Regions from separate parts of the Homo sapiens genome. Here region 2 is linked to region 1. Evidence: fine-mapped expression QTL. Tissue or cell type: whole blood. Region 1 holds a variant in brackets; the other region holds the start of a gene. All regions are shown on one strand. Distances are from middle to middle.

Evidence for each region. PIP is the estimated chance that this variant, and not a neighbour inherited with it, causes the effect.
Region 2: PKIG starts here. The variant in region 1 is fine-mapped to the expression of PKIG in whole blood (INTERVAL, PIP above 0.99).

The regions. Positions count from the first base shown.
Region 1 is chr20:44,489,272-44,497,369 of GRCh38, reverse strand. It overlaps TTPAL (alpha tocopherol transfer protein like), which reads right to left. Exons shown (of 5, transcript NM_001039199.3): 5 at 2,767-8,098. The coding sequence ends at 7,829. It also overlaps a transcript of SERINC3 not described here. Among named protein-coding and RNA genes, the nearest start is that of TTPAL, 17 kb to the right of the region's middle. RefSeq lists enhancers at 1-1,182, 7,266-7,375. The variant A/G (reference allele first, on the strand shown) is at 4,011.
Region 2 is chr20:44,579,037-44,587,140 of GRCh38, reverse strand. It overlaps PKIG (cAMP-dependent protein kinase inhibitor gamma), which reads right to left and starts at 4,562. Exons shown (of 4, transcript NM_001281445.2): 1 at 4,410-4,562. RefSeq lists an enhancer at 7,482-7,621.

The DNA of each region.
Region 1 (8,098 bases):
GTCCTACCTTAAGAAGTAGTGAAGTCTGCCTCTTAGTAGGAAAACCAGTAGTCTAATCAAGACTCAAGTGAATTATACATGTGAATGCTGAATTATATACAAGCATGAGTAAGACAGCATTCTGAATAAGGCCAGGATCATCATTTAAAGCAGGGGAGTATTTTGAGTCATCAGATCTCAGGGTGGCCTTTCATTCCAGATGAGTACCTTTATGTTTCATCACTATGAAAGGGCTTGCCTAGCCTTGGGGAATGCGGGTTGGGGCCCTGGCTTTCAGATCAGGGACATGCTCTAGGAACTCATCAAAGGCAATAGCAGTGGCTGCCACTTTTACCTCGTTAAAGCCGGGAGAAAGCTTCTAGGTCCATGCTGGACTCCTTTATTTTCTAGGTTGGTCTTGCGGGTTATCTGGTTGGGAAGTAAAACTTTCTCTTGGTAATCAAAGAAACTGCCTGCCAAAGAGTAGCCATGGACCTGGTTCTCAGTATAGAGGTTTTGTTCTTTTTCTTTTTGGCTAGCCAAGTGAGGAATGGAGAAGGAACAAAGAAATCTGTAACTGGTTCTTTTTTCTTTTTTTAGACAGAGTTTTGCTCTGTTGCCCAGGCTGGAGTGCAGTGGTGCCATCTTGGCTCACTGCAACCTCCACCTCCCATGTTCAAGCAATTCTCCTGCCTCAGTCTCCTGAGTAGCTGGGACTATAGGTGCGCGCCACCACACCTGGCTAATTTTTGTGTTTTTAGTAGAGATGGGATTTCACCATGTTGGCCAGGCTGGTCCCGAACTCCTGGCCTCAGGTGATCCACCTGCCTCAGCCTCCCAAAGTGTTGGGATTACAGGCGGGAGCCACTGCACCTGGCTGTTTTTACACATTCAGGCTAAAGTGAGTATTCACATAATGAGTTGTGCATTTGATCTGTGCAGATTGATAACAGATAGTAGGCTTATGCTTATTAATGGAAGCTGCTGTTCATCTCTTTACTCCTGTTGTGTTGGTCTGTCCGTCCTGTTACCTAGGCACCCAACTCAGTGATGTCCTAATTACTGCTGGATGACTCAAGCCACACCATGCCTATGTTCTCAGGTGAAGAAGAATAATAGAAACCACATAGATGGGTAGGTGTACCAAGCATTAAACAGACAGTATCCACATGCCTGTAAGGTGGTGATTATTTCCCTCCCTCCTTCCTTTTACGTATCAGTTTGAGGCTTAGAGAAGTTCGTGACTTGCCTATGGTTACTCAGTAAGAGGTGAAACAGAGAAACCCAGGGCTTGGCTTAAGAGTTCTTTTTTCAATTAGACCTCAGTGTCTCTTGGGCCATAAGAATATAAGAGACAGGATTTATTAGAGACATGTAGGGGAGTCATCTGGCTCACTAATGACTCATCACCAACTCACCAGATCTACCATGGGAACCTAGTTTTTGTCTACTCTCAGGCACAGAGTGTTTGCTCCTCTACCCATCACTGACAAAGACAAGTTAGTAGTCACCTGAAGGCAAGTGACTCATGTCTTTTACTAGGTCAGCTATCCCTAGTGGCTGGCACCTACTCAGGAAAAAGCATGAATATTAGGTTAAAAACGTTTTCCCCAGAAGAGTGGTACCCTAAAGGGTCTTATTACTTACCCTTTAAATGCGATAATGTGAAACTTTATTGCCATTGAGTGTATGGGTACCAAACCAGTACTGTGTAAGGAGGGGGCAGGGGGCATCAAGAAAATACTGACTCATGGAAAAGGGCCTCATAAGACTGCTGTGAGAGAAAAGGATTTTAACAGTTAGCTTCATTTTTCTATATGTGAGAAACAGACTGAACTTAAGTTCCACAATTTCCTCAGGAAAGGCTGACCTGAAGGGGTGGTTATGCTGCAATATAAGTACTTAACCTGTTGCATCATCAAAAGTGTACCTCCTGTGTTAGAGTATTTCTCAACTGACTCATCAAGTCACCAGATCTACCATGGGGACCTAGTTTTTGTCTACTCTGGGGCACAGAGTACCAAATAAACAGGGGACATAGAAACAGCTTAGCAGGCCTGGGACCATAGTTGGGCAAGCCGTGCTCCAGTTACCCCTCAAGGAGTCTGGGCTTACTTCTGGAATAAAATGTTGTTACAACTTGGGTTTCAGAGAGGTTAACAACCACTGCTTGTATTTTCAAGAAGCCAGTTAAAAAGTCAATTTCTGGTTCTTTCTTACTCTATGAAAGAGTCCTGCCTTCTCTCTCTCTTCTATCTGGGGACTCGTTATTTGTCTCCAGCCATCAGGAGAAAACAGTGGGCTTGTCATACTTCCTGGGTTTGAATCCCATCCTTAGTATTTGGCTAGTTGTGTGTCACTGGGCAAGCTACATTTTGCCAACAGGAACAGTAATGCAGCTTCATTAAGGGTAGCTGAAGGTTAAAATACATTATTTATGAGTGTCCTTAACACATGTGTGCCCAGCCCACATGCGCACATTGAGGAAATCGCTGGCTATCACTGGAAAGACTCAAGGCCAGTCCAAGAAGTATAGCTGGGCCTCAAGAATGTAAAAATTTGCATATCACCTCTACTGCTCTGTGTAGCTAGCTGCATTCTCCTCTCCATACTGCAGCAGTCTAATTGTGTATGATCTTCAGAGGCAGCCAGCGCATCTACAGAATGCACTGTCCTATCACAGTGCCCCTCCCTCCCTCACCTGCAGAGGAGGTGGTCTACCCGGGCTGTGAATAATGAACCTTGGAACCTTTATCCAAACTGTCATCATCACAAAAGAACCCCATGCACATTTTTCAGAGATTTTTATTGTTTCAGACTGAGTCATGCATACTAAAATTATTACATATTTTCACCACTTTGACTTAGAAAATGCACTAGAAAAATAAACTTTGGTCAAAACAAACACTGAAGTACATGAATCCACCATGTATCCCTATACTCAAAGCCAAACTGAATTTCAGTTTGAAGCAAGGAATGTGACCAGTGGCTGAAACAGTGCCCCAAGCTGGTCAGAGAATTAGCTCACCTCCCACTCCATCAGAGGCTCTTGGTCAGAGAGGTTTCAAGTATTTCACTTGTAACAGGTTCCTACCTGATATGCCAAGAAGCCGAGGCATAGCTACAAGAATCCACAGCAGCAGCATCTCACTGCCTCACTAAACCTGCTGCCCAGTGAGATGAAAAGAAAAACAGCCCCATGAAACAGGAATTTCATCACTATCATCTCCATCCACAAATCACATTGATCCTTCGCATGAAGCAAGCTCCTGTTGACTGTGATGTTTGTTACTAGCATTTTAAGCAAACCATTTCTCTAAGTCAGGAGAGCAGAAGAATGAATTTATTTATTTGACACAGAATATTGCTTTGTCACCCAGGCGGGAGTGCAGTGGCATAGTCTTGGCTTACTGCAACCGCTGCCTCCCAGGTTCAAGCGATTCTCCTGCCTCAGCCTCCCAAGTAGTTGGGATTACAGGCACGCACCACCACACCCAGCTAATTTTTGTACTTTTTAGTAGAGATGGGGTTTCACCATGTTGGCCAGGCTGGTCTCAAACTCCTGACCTCAAATGATCCGCCCCCCCTTCAGCCTCCCAAAGTTCTAGGATTACAGGGCATGAACTACTGCACCTGGCCAAGAGCAGAAGAATTTAGATTTACAAAATTAACAGATCCCAATACAGAGAGGTGTTACCAGAACTGACATCTTTCCTGAACAGTAGGCATGTTTCTGTTCGGTATAGCCACACCTCTCATGGCCACAGGAGATACAGTGTATAGTATATAGTATATAATTGGTTTAGCTAACATTTTACTCCCTAAATTAAAGGAGGCTTCAAAGGAAAACCTTAATTAAATGTTGGCAACTTTAAAATGGTAAAACTTTTTAAAAGTATTATAATCGCCACAGCAATACTCTAGCTTTTGCTACCCAAATGAAAAAAATTCCCAGGATTGATCTGAGGGTCAAATACTATTTAAAGAAATTGCCCACCCAGGGAGAATTCTGAAAGGCTCAATATAAAGGA[A/G]TTCAGAGAAAAGCCTCTTATTGTCTTATTTCGGGAAAAATGGTGTTTTGTAACCTGATTTTTCAATTTTTATTTTTGAGATGGAGTTTCACTCGTCACCCAGGCTGGAGTGCAATGGCGCGATGTCGGCTCACTGCAACCTCCGCCACCTGGGTTTAAGTGATTCTCCTGCTTCAGCTTCCCAAGTAGCTGGGATTACAGGCACCCACCACCATGCCCAGCCAATTTTTTGTATTTTTAGTAGAGACGGGGTTTCACCATGTTGGCCAGGCTGGTCTCAAACTCCGGACTTCAGGTGATACACCCACCTCAGCCGCTCAAAGTGTTGGGATTACAGGTGTGAGCCACCGCTCCCGGCCTTGTAACCTGACTTACAGACCTCCTAAGATAAGTGACTCCTTGTGAAACCAGGATGAAATATGAAAGATCGAAAGCTACTTTTGCCTTAATTTTTGCAGCAGCAATAGAATAAAAAAGAAAATGCAAGGAAAAAAATTAAAAAATAAAGCGACCTTTGCCAAGAGCAAGTTAGAAATTCAAGACATGAAGCCAGGGTGGCACTTTTGGCTGTTTTTGTAGATTTCATCCAGTCTCTCCCCCATGAAGGCAGAACAGGGGAAGAGGCACAGTTTTCCAGAATTCCATGTTGGGATATGGGGGAAGAAGAGGAAGAAAATTCCCATATTCTGAAATGTATAGATTTGGAAGCTTTTAGGTACCAATTCATTCAGACCTAAATTTACTAAATAAGCCAATTGAGGGGGAAAAAAAAGGAAAAAAACTTCTAAAAAGAGAGAGTACAGTGTCTGTGGCAGTGAAGCCAACTAGATACCAGGAATAAAGTTTGGAGTATAGATCTCTATCATGGAATCACTCAGGGATGTTAAGCCAGCTCATCAAAGGCCACGTAGTAAGGTAAAGGTGGAGCCCGCGTCTCCTAATTTACTGTCCCATTTCCTTCCGACACCACACTATCTTGAATTTAGGGAAAAGTTAATTTCCAAGTGTTTGTGCAATGGGCCAGAACTTCTCCCTGAAGGAACATACTCCCAGTTCTTGAGGTTCATGGGTTTGCCTCACCAGTGCGCTCCCCAGTGCTGAGTAAGGCTCACTGTGCTCCCTGGCTGGTCATTCCCCACCCTGCTGAGACAGCCTGACACAAACATCCTGGTGAAGCCACAAGGAGACCACCTTGATTTTCACGCAGGGAGGTCTTGGTTTCACAGCTTGGTTCAAGTTTCCTGAGGTGTCAAAACTATCTGATACCTCTTCGGAGCCAAAACAAAGCAAGCAGCTCCCGGAGGCAGATAAACTTAGGCTCCAACTCCTTCTAGAAGCTGAGTGAAACCACTCCTTCCTTGTCCAACTGGAAAAACCTAAGAAATAGGCCTCTCCAGGTCCCTTCTGGTCTTTGAGATAATTCTCTAGGAGAGCTGTGGCCATGCCTGCATTAAAACAAATGCGACTGGCCAGGAATGCAGTGTAGAATTGAAACATCAGGGCTGAGTGATTCATTCCTCTTTACCCAGTTTTTGTTTTGTTTTGTTTATCTGTCTTCCCTCTTGGGGAAGCCTCCACCCAGTTCTCCCATCCAGGCCAGTGGGTTCTGAACCCCCTCCTTCCCTCCTTCAGCCATCCCACTTGCCCTGCTTGGGCCTTTTCAGCAGTGTGTGTCACATCATCATCAGATGGAACCAGAAGCAGCCAGGAGTGCTTTTTGGCACTTCCAGCTCAGCCAGTACCGTAGAGGATCCAGGGTTACTATCCATGGTGAAAAGAACTTTCTCTAGAATTGGTATTAATGAGGTTAAGTAACTTAATTTCCACCAACAACTTATCCAGACATTTAAAAAGGCAATAGAGATAAACAGCTTAGTAACAACAGATTGGCCTTCAAATTTCAGAGTATTGTTTTCTCCCTAACTGAGCTGTCTGCTTGACTGGTTAGTCTAATAAATGCACGGAGAAGGTGCACACACAACACAGTACTTTTCACTATTTAACACCATGATCATGTGGAATACATTAGAAAGGAAATAGGTCAAAAACCATCATGTGAACCGTCTAATTTGATGTTTGGGCTAAGGCTAAAATCTTCACAGGGAGGTTCTAAAGTGCTGAAATGCAGAACATTCAGGCTGACTGGTTCACCCACACCAGAGAGAGAAACTCAAGTGGGGCTGGGAGGGCAGGGGGGCCCAGAAGTGACCCAGGAATAACCTGCCCTTGTGTTCATTTCCAGAGACCAAAAAAAAAAAAATTTTTTTTTTTTTTTTTTTTTTTTGAGGCAGAGTCTTGCTCTGTCGCCCAGGCTGGAGTGCAGTGGTGCGATCTTGGCTCACTGCCACTTCTGCCTCCTGGGTTCACGTGATTCTTCTGCCTCAGCCTCCCGAGTAGCTGGGACTACAGGAGCCCGCCACCACGCCCAGCTAATTTTTGTATTTTTAGTAGAGATGGGGTTTCACCATCTTGGCCAGGCGGGTCTCGAACTCCTGACCTTGTGATCCGCACACCTTGGCCTCCCAAAGTGCTGGGATTACAGGCATGAACCACCACGCCCAGCTCAGAGACCAAAATTAAAGAATCTCAAGTAATTAACTACTGTAGCCAGGTTTACAATATAGTACCAGAGTCTCAGGGATGGAAGGAATTCATCATACAAGATCCTGGTCACCTTAACCTGGCCTCACAAAAGCCATCTTTTCAAAATTGAACCATCACTATAAAAAGAAAATTGGTGTCAGTGAGTCCCAGGAATACACATAATAGTTTCTTTAAAGGCAGGGCTAATTGGTGACACATCTCTCTTGGAAAGACACATGTACCACAAACAAAAACAGGATCCAACCACTTGTATCTAGATAGTTATCTTTCTAGGCAGAAAATCTAACATTCAGTAACTAAACCAAATCCCAGAGCCTCAGCAGCCAAAATGGCCCTAGCTGACATTTCATCCAGCCTCATTTTATAGAGGAGAAAGTAGAGGCCCATATCTTGTCCATAGTTGTACACCTGGGATCCAGGCCAGAATTCTTATAGCTACACGGGCCTGGGATCCAGCATTTTAGGTTGAGTAAAATCATTTCCTGCTAGGTCCCTGATTCTATTGAGAACCAGGGCTAAGGCTTTATGGATTTGGGAAAACTTAAGTTTCTATTGCAAACTTCAACCAGTGGGTCCCAGAGGTGCTTTGAAGTCTCCGGCTTCCACATTTGACCACAAAGTGCTGCTTATGTCCTGATGCTTACATGATTCAGTTAAGGTGCTTTCCAAACCCGGTGACAACAGCTGGGGCCTTCATCTCCAGTAAGTTTCCTGATGAGCAGCAGAGGTCTATACTTAGGGTTCCTGTGAAAAACACAAACTCCCAGTCTCACATTTGGTCACACTGAAGGTTTGGCCAAATTATTTCATACAAGTAGTTCTCACTGGCCAAACAGGTGGTTTTTCTCCTGGAAAAGTGGGATCAAAGTGACTTTGGTCCTGATTGTTCTTGCTTCCAAGATGTGTAAGAACCAGATCACCACCCCCCAACCAAAAAGCAAAACAAAATAGATATAGCCTCCAGATTAATAGTTGCAGACTGGGATTCCAAATGTTTAAGAATCAGTGGGGACATTTTCCATGTCTTCCATGGAGTAATTAAAGTAACCAAAGGCTTACCCCAAAATGGGCTCATGCTCATATCTCAGGCTGTTCCTCCATCCTGCAGTTTAATTACAAGGAGCAAGACTGAATCCATGGACCCTTAAATTCTCCTTGTGCCTCTCCAAAGAAAAGAAGGAAAAGAATTAAAGATGGTGACCCTGGGGGACGGGCTAGTAGCAGGAGTACAGCTGTGACTTCACAGCTCGCAAGGAGTCGTCACACTGTGCATCTGAGGTCAGGCCCTCGGGCAGCAGCGTCTGGCCCAGGATGCTGTCACAGGCAGGAACAGGTTGGCAGAACTCTTTCACAAAATCGTCTTCTGAAGCCAGCAGTACCGCGTTCCAGGTGGCAGTGTCCAGCTCCCCAGCCGTGCCCCCATACTCCTTGGGGAGGATGCTTCTTGGAAGGTTTGTGTGGAGAGAGTTCAAGTCAGACCCATG
Region 2 (8,104 bases), 90 kb before region 1:
GTCTTTACCCTGGTCCTCTAGTTCAGTGCTTAGTACTAACAGGTCCTCAATGTACATTTATGGAATGTTAAAGACTACACTGATAAAGTACTAAAACAGTAACTGACCTAGGTTCCTGGGACATAGTAAGAATACACCAAATACTTTCTTCGGTGCCATGAAGGGCCATTATTCAGTTCTGAAGAGTCAAGCTAAAGCCTGTAATTTCTTGAAACATTAAAGAGACTTCTTTTTGGAAATGCAGCTTCCTCCAGTAAGAGCGGATACATTATGTGTTCTAATCTGCAATTCATAATCAGTCAGCATAGGAGCCCACGGCAACTTCCAAAGAAACCACTCTTTGAAGGAGCAGTACTCCAAGTTTTCCTAAGACATTTCTGAAGGATTTCCAGGAGGTAGTGAGCTCAGCCTAGGGTCATGATTAATAACCTGTTTCCCAGAACTTTAGATTTTCCACCTCAGTCTCCACTTAGGAATTGCTTCTGGCCCCTCGTGAAAGCATTTGGCAGAGTTAATTGGGCCAGTTCAGCTTCTTGTCTGTCACAGCCAGCACCTGTTACCAGCTTCTTCCTTAAGTGGCTGGGCTAGGGTCCTCTGGTCCCAAGAGAATAGCACCCACTTCTGCTTTTGGCCTCAGCACTGGCTGGCTGATTTGAGGTTCAGCATCACTTGACTGGGTGACAGGAAATAATGCTGAGGCTTGGTTTGAAGAGCCAACATGGCAGCTCCAGGGTTCATCACAGGGGTTTCAAAATGATGAGTTCAAAGATAACTTCTGGTTCCTCATGCAAATGCCATCCTATGTCTGAGGGGGCAGATGCCTGTGTACATTGGCTGACATTCTCTTTCTGGAAATTGAGAGCAGCTAATCCTAAGCATGTATTTTTGTACTAACTAAGTGCTTTATGAGCCCTATCTCATTTCATCCGCATGGCACCCCTTTGAGGTCAGTATGACTGTGACCCCCCACTTGACAGAAAGAGAAGTAGGTTCTATAAAGTGAGGTGATCAGTCCAGGATCTCCCAGCTAGGAGGCGGTGAAAGCAGAGCTCTTACCTGCTATCCCCTTCCAATTTCTCACTGAACTCGAGAGCTCTCACCTGCTGTCCCTTTCCAATTTCTCACTGAACTCAAGAGCTCTCACCTGCTATCTCTTTCCAATTTGTCACTGAACTCTAGAGCTCTTACCTGCTATTCCTTTCCAATTTCTCACTGAACTCGAGAGCTCTTACCTGCTACCCCTTTCCAATTTCTCACTGCCCTCTAGATTGTCTAAATCGAAAGAAACGGTAGACACCAACCAGATGCAGGGCTGCAAATTCCCACAGGGGCCAGGGGCCAGGCAGGAGACTAGAGGGCACAGGGGAATGCGCAAATGGTAATGAACTGGAGAACACACCTGCCTAAAGGCATTCAAATTAAAAACAAAACACCACTCTGACTTCTGACTAGAGTTCACTTGTCATCATTTAACAGATGGAGCAACTGAGATCCAGGGAGGTGATATGAAAAAGGCACTGCAGTATGGTGAAATATTCAAGGGCTTCGGGGACAACCAGTTCTCATTGGGAACTCAAGCTCTAGCCCCTGCCAGCTGTGAGACTCTGGGCAATCCACTGCACCTCTCTGTGCCTTTCTTAGGTGTAAAATGGAGATGATCTCTGCCTCACATCATTGCTGTGAAGATTAAGAGAAGTCAGCATATGCAAGATGCCCAGCCCTGTGTGTGACATTTATTTCAGGAAGATACCAAAGCCAAATGAGATCTCTGGACACATCTTTTCCACAACCTACCTCCACTCCCAAGATGCCCTAAACTCACTGCCGGGAGTGACTGAGGTGGGAGAGATCAGCAAACACACACTGATAACAGGAGCAACTTTGACACACAAAACAAGAACTGAAAGCCACCCTCATCTGGTACATGAAGGCCTACCTAGTTGAGGAGTGTGAGGCATTCCACATTTCCACTCTCCACTTCCTGGCAGGGACCACAAAGTCTAGGTACCTTCCTTCCAGAACATCACCTCCTCACCACCACCTTAGGAAAAAGGATGCCTTTTTTGATTACCCCAAATCTCAAGATCCCAGCGGGGCTGGGATGAAGCAGAGGATGCCCTGGCCTTCCCACTGCCCATGCCCATGGGTGGGTCCATGGCAGCAACAGTCCACCTTCATGGGATGAAATGCTGGGGAAGACTGCAGCTTTAGAAGTGCCAAGAGACCCCATCTCTACTAAAAATACAAAAATTAGCTGGGCGTGGTGGCAGGCGCCTGTAATCCCAGCTATTCGAGGGGCTGAGGCAGGAGAATCCCTTGAACAAAAACGGGAGGTGGAAGCTGCAGTGAGCCAAGACTGCACCATTGCACTCCAGCCTGGGAGACAGAGTGAGACTCCGTCTCAAAAAAAAAAAAAAAGAAGTGCCAAGGGCCTTTGAGAACCCTCTTATTAACTAGGACCTTAATTCAAACAAATAGTTTCTAAATACCACAACTTCCTGAGGATTAGGGTCTCTGATGCCCTTAAAGAAAACAAAACAAACAAACAAAAACAAAACAAAACAAAGCAAAAACCTTAATTTGTCAAGACCCGGCACCTTGGAAACTCAAAATTCAAGATCTGACGTCTTTTGCTTTTTTTTTTTTTTTTTTGCACTCTGGCTGTGGCTATCCTTCCCTTGTGGCAGGAGAGGGTGGCTCTATGTTAAATGATGAAAGAGGGGCAAATAGAGGGATTTTCCCCCTTCTTCTCCCTCTTTCTTGCCAAATGAGGAACTAGGATGGCGGGCTTTAAGTTTAAATTAAGTTGTGTCTCCTTTGTACCTATGTGCCAGGCTTTCTACTAGGCAGTGGGGCATAGTGATGGGCTAGACAGACACGCAGAGAAGGTGCAGATGGTCTAGTGGAGACATGGGGAATTGAAGTTATGCCAGTAATTATGTAAATACAGTTTAGTTCAGGATAATATGAAAACATATAAGTAGATGGTTGTCCTCAGTCAATGGGGTTAGGGAATAATACTGACCATCTAGTGCTCTGTAAAGGGTTGAGCATAACATAGGGCCTAGTGCTTAAGAGATACTCAATAATGCCAATTCCTTCTTTCCTCTCTCCCCAAGTGTATGTGCTAGTGTATGCGTGTGCACATACAGTTACCACTGAGACTTTTTCTTTCTCTTTCTTCAAGAACACCTAATCTGAAAAAGACCCATAAAAACTCAGAAGTAACTTAATGTTGCCTGTTTTATGTCTTCTTTTAACTGTCCTACAGGCACCCGTTTTTAGCTACTCTGGGAAACTGAAAACCTAGGGTCCTTTGCTCCTAAAGCCATAAGGGCCCAATACAAAGGGAAAAGAAATATGGACAGTTCATTTCATACTGAATTTGGAAATACAGAGATCATCTAGTTTTGTCCCCTCATTAGGTACAAATAAAGAAACAAGACCCAGAGAGTGTGAAACACTTGCCCAAGGTGACAGTTTCCTTGGGTGACCCTTCTAATATATGGTAGCTTTTTGTTGAAGCTGAAATCTTCCCGTTAGCTGTAACTTTTCAAATATACTTAACCTGCTAAGAGGGGACACCTCCCCTGTTAGCACACTGCAAGCCATCTCAAGCCACCTAGGAATCCTCCTCAGTTCAGGGACCCACCAAGTAAGGGACCTGGGTACAGCAAGGGCCCCCTCTTTCCCTCTCTACAGAGTAGCTTGCTTAGTTTCAAACCCTGAAAACAGATACCAACAAATAAAATGCCTAAAGGCTTACATGTCCTGTTTATATTCCAGGCATAAACAGCAAATTTTTAAAAGGAAGCAATAAAAAGATCGCAAACCCAAGGTTAAAGATTTCCAACCCCTTTCCATCTTGGAGTTTTCCACACAGCTGCTGCAGCACTGGGTTTATATGTGGTAAATTCATGGAGTCTGACCATATCTGTAACTGAAATTTAACACAACAACCATGTTCCTGAGGGGGAAGATAATAGGGAATTTTCACTACTTTCGGAGACTTTTCTTTCTAGAATGTTTAAAAATTATTATACCACCTTTGTAATCAGAAAAAAAGAAAGGGTTTTACAAACACGAATTTCTTAGGGAAGATTTATTTCTTCACCTATATTTGGAGCAAGGAGCTGCTTTTAAAGCTCTGAATACTCTGTCAAAGTTCTTTGAGTAAAAATGAAACAGCATCTGAATGGAGCCCATTTGTGAGACTGGAGGCTCCGACTAGCCTTAGGCAGTTTCAGACAAGGCCATAATTTTCAGAGCAAGCTCACATATATCATTATATAAAAATAGACATTTTGTGGCCAACAGGCTGGAAAGCAAGCTCTCCAGAGAGCTCTGCCTCCAAGCTCTGCTTCTCCCTGGGGGTGTTGGGCAGGGGAGGAGAGTAAAGTTCTACTTACAAGACCAAAGTTTCCTCAAAATCCAGTGGTCCTCAGTCAGAAGCGGAGGCAGAATTTAAGAAACCAGGATTCAAGGTTAGCAGTCCAGACCTGTGGTGCGGGCAGGATTCTCACTTTACCCTCCTCTCTGTCTCTTCCCCGTGTCTCCTAAATGAAAAGCACTTTGAGGTTTTAGTGGGTGTTTCCCATGTCTCGGGCCAAGTAAGTCCCCATTTGTTGTAATCCAATGCTCAGCCTGATGATGTCAACCACACAACTCACTCACTCAGTTTCCACCTCTCTGTCCACAGGAGAGATCCATTTCCTTTGGACAATGAGCCAGGGGGCTGTAACTGCATCCCAGGCCACCACGCTTGCCTAATATCCTTCCTTCAATTTTCAACCCTGCAGCTTTAGTGACAAAAGGCTTCCTATCCACTCACTGAGCCAGGGTTCCTGGGTAAATTCCTTTGCTTCTTAGTGGGTTGTCTGCTTTCCTGTGTGTTTAATTCCTTTCTTTGGTATATAATATACTAGTTAGGGTGGAGATCTTCACCCCACCCCACACCCATCTCTTTCTTCCTGCCCAATTTTCCAAGTTGTTTCATTTCTCCCAGGTCTCCTAGGTACATGCTGGGCACAGTACATGAGTTTGTCCTTCATGTAGGGGAGGTGATGTGTGCCCCCGGGGAAGGCTTGGAAACAGCACTGGTGTGTCCCCTGGGAAACTGGGTTCCAGTCTTGGTCAGGCCTTCAACTGAATGAATGACCTCAAGCAAGTCACATCCCTCTCTGGACCTCAGTTTCCCTATCAACAAAATGCTGGCTTTGGTGCTTTCCACTTCTGAGATTCAATGAGTAAAAATCAGTGACTGGGGAACTTATAAACAAATGCATTATAGAGCATTTTACTACAAGCTACCCAACTACATGCTTGAGGGAAGGAAGAACCCTGGAGAAGTCAGAGGCCACTGCCCAAGATGCCAGGCTCAGCTGGGCACCTTTAACCCCCTTTATGAAGGAGATGAACAGATTCTCTGGGAGTAAAACCAAAAGAATTCACTGAACAAGTCCTTAGGGACATGAAAAGCAGCAGCATAAACTACAAGATAAGACAAACAAGTAACAGGCTATAAGTGTCCTTAGGGACCAACATGGAACAGCAGTGGTTACGAGAGATCATTTCTTGCATTTGGAGAGTGCTTGATGGTAAAGACAAAGAACATCTCTCTACTTTCGTGTACAATGGGGAGCGAGTGACATGCATAGTGGTTAGGAACATCATTTGGGAGCCACAGATGTGGATCTGAGTCCTGTCTGACTTAATTTCTCTGAACTTCAGTTTTTTTAACTGTCAAGTGGGATACTAGTGCCTCTGTTTTAGGATTGTGAGAATTAAAAAACACATGTAAGGAAACTGAAAGTATTTGGTACATACTAAGTATTGAATAAATGTTTGCTCTCGTTGTACATAATCTCATTTGATTCTCATAACATCCTTAGGAGAATCAGATAAGTGCTATGAGGCTACATTATTAATCTCTCCTTCCTGGATAAGAAGACATATACAGAGAAGTTAGGTGACATGCCCAAGGTCACACAGCTCAAAACGAAAGGGACAGAATTAGAAATGAAGCCTCAACTCCTAACTAGGTCAGCACACATGCCACACACATGCCAATGCCAATGCCATTTCTCAAAGTGGTTGCCGCAGCCAGCCTGGGAAAGGAAACACTCAGGCCACTAGGTCAGAGAGGCTGCTTTCCTTGCTTTGCTACCCAAATCCTGTGTGGCCTGAAGCAAGACTGGGCTTCAACTAACTCCCTCAAAAGGAGCAGATCTGATCTGTTTCAATGCCACTTTGATGGTGATGGGAAGGTAGGACCGGAGCTTTACTGGGAAAGCGGCTCTCTATAGGTAAGGAAGAGGCTGTGGTAATTTGTGGTTTAACAAGAATTTTTATTAGTTCTCAGAAAACACAGATGCTTATCAGAAAACATCCAAGAAAACAGGCTATATTAGGAGGGAGTTTGTCAATCTGAAGGCTTTTCAACAATGTGACAATGTGACGTAGGACTGCTGTGGAATAAAAACCACACCAGCCTGGCCGGGCGCGGTGGCTCACACCTGTAATCCTAGCACTTTGGGAGGCCGAGGTGGGTGGATTGCCTGAGCTCAGGAGTTTGAGACCAGCTTGGGCAACACGGTGAAACTCCATCTCTACTAAAATACAAAAAAAATTAGTCAGGCGTGGTGGCGTGTTCCTGTAGTCCCAGCTACTTGGGAGGCTGAGACAGAAGAATTGCTTGAACCCAGGAGATGGAGGTTGCAGTGAGCCGAGATTGCACCACTGCACTCCAGCTTGGGCGACAGTGAGACTCTGTCTTTAAAAAAAAAACAAAAAACAAAAAACAAAACAAAACAAAAAAACACCAGCCTGGTAACCCACAGAGAGCAGCCGTTCACAGCTCAGAGAGATGTGGGCTTCCTTCTGGTCCCTAGACCTTCTTGCTGTGCTTTGGTTTCCCAGTGTAAAATGAGAAGAATAACAGCCTTACTCTCCAAGGTTCTTGTGTGGGTTATGTGCCTGGCACATACTATACATTGAAAAATATTTGAATACTTCTTGTCTAATTCTGACCATTTCATCATCCTTTGCCCTAATGGTGATGTGACAATGAAAGAAAGTCAGAGATTGGTCGGGAAGTCAAAAGGGTCCTGTATTTCTCCAGAATGTCACGATGAGTAATGAACAAAAGCCCACCCAGAGCTGTAAGGCCTGTTCTCAGCAGCAACACTCAGTTTGGAGGGACTGGAGGTCAGGGCTATTGTTTGGCTGAGCCTTTATTCCAGAAGACTGAGTAGGTGTCAGGAAATGAGGCTGGGCTCTTGAAGATGGGTGCTTTGAATCATGTTTTGTTACTTGAACAAAAATAATAGTAAGGAGCCCATTCATAAAAACAACATCATTTTCTTCAACAACATGTACTCTGTATCACTTCCCTTGTGAACGGAATAATTCTACGTCTGTGACAGAATCCCGGAAGACAGAACCATAGCAACACTGGCACATTCATTTCTTCTTATAACTGACAATACTGGACACACTTATGTGGGCTGGGGCCAAGCTGTGCACTGAGCACTCTATGAACACCACTTCATGTCATCCTCACAATAATCGGGTGCAGGAGACATTATTAATATTCACATCTTACAGCTGTAGCAACAGATGCATGGTGAGCCGACCAACCTGCTCAAAGGCTCACGGGAGCAAGGGGCAGAGCCTGCACTCTAACTAGGGACCATGTGGTGCCAGTCCTGAATCCACAACCCCCTTGCACTACCACCTCTTAAAGGGCTTCCCTTCAGGAAACTTGGCTGTTTTTCACAGACAGCAGCATCAGCTCCATTTGAGGATGAAGGAAACTTTGGCTGTTTAATTCCACCTTTTACCCCCAGTTTAGAAGGGGTCTCTCCTTCCTCTGAATTTCCTTAGTATGCTCTGTTTCTCTCTTAAGAAACATACCCTTTTCTCTGATGACACATATTTAGTTGGGGGCAGGTCTTTTTTCTCTGCCAGAATCCTAACTTTTTAAGGAAAAGATCTGTGTCTAATATAGCAGCATTTTGTACATATTATGAGATACTTATTAAAATAAGGAAATCCATAAACAAACCCCAAAACTATTATTGTATATTTACCATATGCCAGGTAA